2 linked regions of the Homo sapiens genome follow. The protein of the gene in region 2 purifies or fractionates together with the protein of the main gene of each other region. This does not show direct contact. Each region holds a gene or a part of one and is shown on either strand. Other genes may lie near its edges.

The links.
Region 1: the proteins of PRKRIP1 (region 2) and EIF2AK2 purify together in Homo sapiens (affinity purification with western blotting, with the first as the bait; one study listed by BioGRID). This does not show direct contact.

Annotation. Positions count from the first base shown.
Region 1 is NC_000002.12:37,118,755-37,122,571, forward strand, and holds part of EIF2AK2 (interferon-induced, double-stranded RNA-activated protein kinase), read right to left. Parts: coding exon 3,752-3,817; intron 1,386-3,751; coding exon 1,205-1,385; intron 1-1,204.
Region 2 is NC_000007.14:102,402,750-102,406,566, reverse strand, and holds part of PRKRIP1 (PRKR-interacting protein 1), read right to left. Parts: intron 1,970-3,817; coding exon 1,884-1,969; intron 826-1,883; exon of another isoform or gene 1-825.

The sequences.
Region 1 (3,817 bases), on a different chromosome or scaffold from region 2:
CTGGGCAGACCACGGAAGCAATACCTTTTAAGGGCTACTCATTCCTCTCTGAGCCCAATAAACAACTGTGTATATGGGAACTTATTTCTCTCAAGGAATTTTTTTGTTTCATTCCTTATTCCTTGCTGTTTTAGAGGGGTGGGATAAGCAGATAGCCACATAAATAAGGTACTTCTGCCTAGAACAGAAAAAGGCAGTTCCAGAGTGATCAGGAAAGGCTCAGTAAAGGAATTACAACCAAAGGGGGCAGGCAGAAGAGTGTCCCATGAGAGAGAAGAACATGAGCAAAGGTCCAGGGACAGGATTCAGGACGGCCAGCTTGTGACAGGCTTAGGCAAGTCACAGGGAATAGGGAATGGAGGAAAGGCTGTGAAGGGCTATTCTGTCTCTCACCTTCTGTCATTTTAATGAGAAGTAAAAAATAGGGAAACTCCTTGTCCGGACCATAAAAGCCAGAGGAAAATGAAAATACTAAGGGATGATACACTTTCCCAGTCCGGGATTACCGCAATTTTCCAATCATGGGGTTGAAATGCTTAACCAAGACAGTATTAGACTCTGGACCCAGTAGCTGTGACAGCCCTCGCGAGTAATGACTGAGAGATTAGGGAACCATATTCCTAAAGCAACAGTCAACAGAGTCCCCTCTGCCTCTCAAATAAAGCTGAGTCACTTAGAGGAGGCAGGAGGAACAGGGGCAGAGCAGCCAGTTGGCTGTGCCAGTCACAGTAATTATTTGCATGGAAATGTTCAGATACCATTTTCTCATAACTATCAATCAACCACTATTCTAAAACTAGAGAAAAAAATATATATCTATCTATCTTATTTTATATATATATATAATTTTTTTTTTTGAGACAAGTCTCACTCTTCACCTAGGCTGGAGTGCAGTGGCACAATCTTGGCTCACTGCAACCTCCACCTCCCAGGTTCAAGCGAATCTCCTGCCTCAGCCTCCCGAGTAGCTGGGATTACAGGCGCACGCCACCATGCCCAGCTAATTTTTGTATTTTTAGTAGAGACACGGTTTCACCATGTTGGCCAGACTGGTTTCGAACTCATGACCTCAGATGATCTGCCTGCCTCAGCCTCCCAAAGTGTTGAGATTATAGGCGTGAGCCACTGTGCCCAGCTGAGAAGATATATTTTAAAATTACTATATTATATATATATCAATTAATAAAGTACATTTTCCACTTACCTTAAGATCTCTATGAATTAATTTTTTTGAATGTATATAATCCACCCCTTTTGTTATTTGTTCAAAGAGTTCCAAAGCCAAAACTTTGTCTAGTTTCTCGCCTCTTCTTTTTTCAATCCATTGTTCCAAGGTCCCTTTATCACAGAATTCCATTTGGATGAAAAGGCACTTAGTCTTTGACCTGGGTATAAAATTCACAGTATGTTAAAAGTAACAATAAATATAAATTTATAAAAAATTTTTTATAACTTTTTAAAGTTTTTCATAACTTTTTAAAAGCTTATACCTTATCTTCTTAAGAACCCCAAAAACACTTTGGGAGGCCGAGGCGGGCGGATCACGAGGTCAGGAGATCGAGACCACGGTGAAACCCCGTCTCTACTAAAAATACAAAAAATTAGCCAGGCGTGGTGGCGGGCGCCTGTAGTCCCAGCTACTCCGGGGAGGCTGAGGCAAGAGAATGGCGTGAACCCGGTAGGCGGAGCTTGCAGTGAGCCGAGATCACGCCACTGCACTCCAGCCTGGGTGACAGAGCGAGATTCCGTCTCACAAAAAAAAAAAAAAAAAGAAAAAAAAAGAACCCCAAAACATGTCACAAAATAGAAATCTAAATATAATAAACAAATTTGAATCAAAATATAATAGGCCATTTTTTATTTCAATCATAAGTTCCCGGATGTCCAGAGCTTTATTTGTTTAGCTAATTTATAAAATATGAGCTGGGCTGGGCACGGTGGCTCACGCCTATAATCCTAGCACCTTGGGAGGCCGAGACTGGCGGATTGCTTGAGCTCAGGAGTTTGAGACCAGCCTGGGCAGCATGGCGAAACCCCATCTCTACTAAAAACACAAAAATTAGCTGGGTGTGGTGGCGCGGCACCTGTAGTCTCAGCTACTCGGGAGGATGAGGCACGAGAATCATTTGAACCCAGAAGGCAGAGATTGCAGTAAGCTGAGATCACGCCATTGTGCTCCCGCATGAGCGATAGAGTAAGACTCTGTCTCAAAAAAAAAAAAAGAAGAGGCCGGGCGCGGTGGCTCACGCATGTAATCCCAGCACTTTGGGAGGCCGAGGCGGGTGGATCACGAGGTCAGGAGATCAAGACCATCCTGGCTAACACGGTGAAATCCCGTCTCTACTAAAAATACAAAAAATTAGCCGGGCGTGGTGGCGGGCGCCTGTAGTCCCAGCTACTCAGGAGACTGAGGCAGGAGAATACTGTGAATCCGGGAGGCAGAGCTTGCAGTGAGCCAAGATTGCACCACTGCACTCCAGCCTGTGCGACAGTGCGAGACACCGTCTCAAAAAAAAAAAAAAAAAAAAAAACGAGAAGAAAAAAAAAATGAGCCACCCATTCTTCATTGCTGAAGATCTGCAATCACCATTGCTAACAGATAGAAATAGGAACATGAATACAATGCAGGAAACTAAATTTCATTATTATATAAAGTAACTTTGAAACCTTTTAATTCACCATTGATCTACTAAGCATGAAAGGCACCTAGAGATGAGAAAATCAGTTAGACACTATATCCTTGCCGTCACGGGGATAATAGTCTAATAGGAGAGAGTAAAGGGAAAGCAAACCTAAAACAATAGGGAAGGTACTCTAAGAGAAGTGCCAACAAATTACTAAGATACATAAATTGGAGGCTTGATTTTTTTTTTTTTTTTTTTTGCTAACCACGTTTTATTTTTTTTCTGAATTAAGTTAGCCTCAATATTCATTTATATTCTTTGTATATATGTCAGCTTGAAAACAGGAAGAGGTAGCCAAGAATTTGCTGAAAGCTGAAGTCCTGTATGCTGACGGTCAATAACTCCTGAACTGATGATAATGTTCTCACTTACACGACATGGAGATGGAGGTGGGGCAGGAGAAAATGAATGAATGGGACCCCATTGGCCTCAGGATTTTAGTGAGAGGACTGTCCCCATAATAGGTTGGGTGACTTTCAAAGACAGATGCCAGCTCTTTAGGATCTCCAGTTGTTTGGCAATGGCTTAACTGACATAAAACATGAGGGTGCCCCCATCTCAGCTTGTGGTCTTAAAAATATTTTCACTCCCCACCACCCCAGCATAAGTGGTATAGTTACATTCCAAAGAGACCCTCTGACGGCACCACACCAATCACAGCCTAAGAGAGGGACAGAAAAGTGTTGGTAGCTGAGGAGGGAGCCCCCAGATGCAGCATCTATATGTTAAAACTCTCTTCACAAGACTACACTTAAACAGCCTGCGCTGAAGCCGGCACGTGAACAAGGCTCTCCATGAAACAATGGAGTCAGGAAAGCTGAACCTGAGATTTTGCAGACAGCTGAGGATGTAACAGAGGGTTGTGAGAGCAAGTCTGCAGCAAGAGGAGGAGCAAGGAAGAGATTTTCACTTTCTCCTTACCTTCGGAATGGAGAGATAACAGTGTCTCTCAGAGGGAATTGTGATAATTAATCGTGATGATTAATAGCCTTATCCAGTGGCCCATACATAGTAAATAACAATTTCCTTCCATCCTATTATGGCTATGAGAATTTATTTTTAGTTACCTTGAACTATTTTTGCTGTTCTCAGGATCATAATCACTGCTCTCAAGAGAATCATCACTGGTCTCA
Region 2 (3,817 bases):
GCCAAAGAACTCAGAATCGACCATTCTACAGTCATTCAGCATTTGAAGCAAACTGGAAAGGTGAGAAAGCTCGGTAAGTGGGTGCCTCATGAGCTGAGCGAAAATCAAAAAAATCATTATTTTGAAGTGCCGTCTTCTCTTACTCTACGCAACAACAATGAACCATTTCTCGATCAGATTGTGACATGTGATGAAAAGTGGATTTTACATGACACCTGCGACAACCAGCTCAGTGGTTAGACCAAGAAGCCGCTCCAAAGCACTTCCCAAAGCCAAACTCGCACCAAAAAAGGTCATGGTCACTGTTTGCTGGTCAGCTGCTGGACTGATCCACTACAGCTTTCTGAATCCCGGTGAAACCAGCACACTGGAGAAGTATGTGCAGCAAATCGATGAGATGCACTGAAAACTCCAATGCCTGCAGCCAGCACTGATCAACAGAAGGGGCCCAATTCTTCCCCAGGACAATGCCCGACCACGAGTCACACAACCAATGCTTCAAAGGTTGAACAAATTGGGCTGCGATGTGTTGCCTCATCCACCATATTCACCTGACTTCTTGCCAACCGACTACCACTTCTTCAAGCACTTTGACAACTTTTTGCAGGGAAAGCACTTCCACAACCAGCGGGATGCAGAAAATGCTTTCCAAGACTTCTTCAAATCCCGGAGCATGGATTTTTACGTTATAGAAATAAACTTATTTCTCATTGGTGAAAATGTGTTGATTGTAATGGTTCCTATTCTGATCAATAAACATGGTTTGAGCCTAGTTACAATGATCTAAAATTCACGGTCCAAAACTGCAGTTACTTTTGCACCAACCAAAACTTTTGCATGACTCTGCCAGTCCGTCCTTATCAGCTGCTTTCATTAGGATTCAAGAGCAAATCCCAGGGAGCCCTGAGGCAAAGCAACCTCAGAAATAACAGGGGTGCTTTTTAAAAAAAAATTTTTTTTATTATTATTGTAGAGACAGGGTTGCACTTTGTCACCCAGGCTGGAGTGTAGTGGTGCGATCATAACTCACTGCAGCCTCAGCCCCCTGGGCTCAAGCGATCCTCCTGCCTTGGCTTCCCAAAGTGCTGAGATTACAACTGTGAGCCACCATGCCTGGTCCCTAAAGATGCTTTTTCATTTCAAGATATTTAGGGGCTGTTGTTAGAATCCTCCTCAGCTCTCATTGTAAAAGTTGAGAGACCACTTATGTAAACACACAGATACACATATAAACATACAGCCTATATACCATGTAGTCACTTGAGGGAGTCATAAACCGTAATTTAAGAAACATGCTAAATGGGAAGTTTGGTTGCAGCACCTTGTTAAAATACAGATGCGGCCGTGTGTGGTGGCTCATGCCTGTAATCCCAGCACTTTGGGAGGCCGAAGCAGGCGGATCACCTGAGGTGAGGAGTTCAAGACTAGCCTGACCAACATGGTGAAACCTCGTCTCTACTAAAAATATAAAAATTAGCTGGGTATGGTGGCAGGCACCTGTAATCCCAGCTACTCAGGAGGCTGAGGCAGGAGAATTGCTTGAACCCAGGAGGCGGAGGTTGCAGTGAGCCGAGATTGTGCCACTGCACTGCAGCCTGGGGGACACAGTGAGACTTTGTCTCAAAAAAAAAAAAAAATACAGACCTGAAGGAGACACAGAAATCAATGTGATCACTGAAGTCCTGACTTGCAAGCTCTGGACAATCTGTAACCAGTTGGAGGGTCATAAGGAACTTGCTCTCTGCTCAGGTAGTAGAAGTCATTGCTCTACATTCATGACCCCTACAGGTCATGCAGAGGAACTACTACTGACTGCAAGGACAGCTCACCCAGCCACCACCCCTGGCCCTTAAGTGTCATCACAGTTAGGCCATGCCGCTTACCGCTTCTTCCGGCGCTTTGCGGTCTGCTCCTCTGCAGCAATTTTATTCTTTTCCAGTCTTTTCTGAAACTCTGCATCCAATTTTTGCTGCAACAAAACCCACATCATTTAGACACGCTCTGGTCTGGGCAGACTGTGGGAGGTTTTGCTCAGGCAAAGTAGGAGAGTTCTAGAAGTCACACCACTGGGGGTGACGGAGGCACTACCCGGGTCCCCAGGGCCATTTTAACTTTAAAAGGCTGTCCCAGAGGCAGGGCAGGTAATCAATACATAGGTCTCCGATGGCGAAGTAACTCTTTTAGTTGACTGAGGCACCACTCATGCATAGCACAATATAGGAGACAATACAGGAGGGAGTGCAGAGGACACTCTGAGGGCAGCGCTCACCATCTGCTCAGCCGGGGCCTTGGATACTGCCCAGAGCTCATCAGAATGAATGGCCGGAGGGTCAGAACCATGGAATTTTCAAGCCCTAAGCCCAACCATAGTTACCAAATGGCTGAGTTTTTTTGTTTTTGTTTTGAGACAAGGTCTTACTCTGTCGCCTAGGCTGGAGTGCAGTGGCACAATAGCTCACTACAACCTTGAACTCCTGGGCTTGATAGATCGTCCTGTCTCAGTCTCCTGAGTACTTGGGACTATGGGTGCATGCCATTACATCTGGCTAATTTTTATGTTTATTTTGTAGAGACAGGTCTGGCTATGTTGTCCAGGCTGGTTTTAAATTCCTGGCCTGAAAGGATCCTCCCACCTCAGCCTCCCAAAGTGCTGAGATTACAGGCCACTGTGCCCAGCCACCAAATGACTGATTCTAAAGCAGCGTAACACACGCCATCTGCTGCCATGACCTGCTGCTAAGCACACACCCACACCCACACAGATATTTGTAAGTACTGCATTACTTCTTCTCAGCAGTTCTGTCTCCAAGCCTCAGTCTACTCATCTATAAAATGGGGAAAATTGTAATTCCTCTCTCCCAGAGCTGTTAGGAACAATAATGAAATAAGGGTTTGGGCACAATGGCTCATGCCTGTAATCCCAGTACTTTGGGAGGCTGATACTCAGGAGGCTGAGACAGGAGAATCACTTGAACCCAAGAGGCAGAGGTTGCAGAGACCGGAAATTGCGCCACTGCACACCAGTCTAGGCGGCAGAGGGAGACTGTCTCAAAAAAAATAGAAAACCACCTGTAAACTACAAAGACATCTACTGATTCAAAGTGTCATCTCTTGTTTCTTCCAGTCACAGCCATAAAGGTCAATGGAGCAAAAAATAAGGAGCCGGCAAAGGAGGAAGAGGTGCCTTCAACACCTCTGCTGGTCTGCACCGCCAGGGCTGTACGCATCTGCTTACAGTGGCACAGAAACCAAACCAAACAAGCCCTCTCTCTGAGGGCAGAAAATATTCCTTCAGGAAGGAAATCAACTTTAATTAATCAACTTTCTGGACAACCAAAAAGCAAATGACTTAAATCTAAAAGATCTGATTTGCTTAGAAGCTGAGCTGTGAAGTCCGGGTGCGGTGGCTCACTCCTGTAATCCCAGCACACTGGGAAGCTGAGGTGGGCAGATCACCTGAGGTCCAGAGTTCGAGACCAGTGTGGGCAACATGGTGAAACCCTGTCTCTACTAAAAACACAAAAATTAGCCAGGCCAGGTGGCAGGCACCTGTAATCCCAGGTACTCGGGAGGCTGAGACACTAGAATTGCTTGAACCCAGGAGGCAGAGGCTGCAGCAAGCCAAGATTACACTCCAGCCTGGGTGACAGAGTGAGACTCTGTCTCAGAGAAAAAAAAAAAGCTGAGCCGTGAATGTCTTACTCTGTGCTGCTGAAGAAGCCAAATTTACCAGCAAGTGAACTAAACAGAGCCCCCGCTGGCTGCCGCACCTGGCAGAGGCAATGTCTCAAGCAGGGGTGAGTGGGACTGGGCTCTG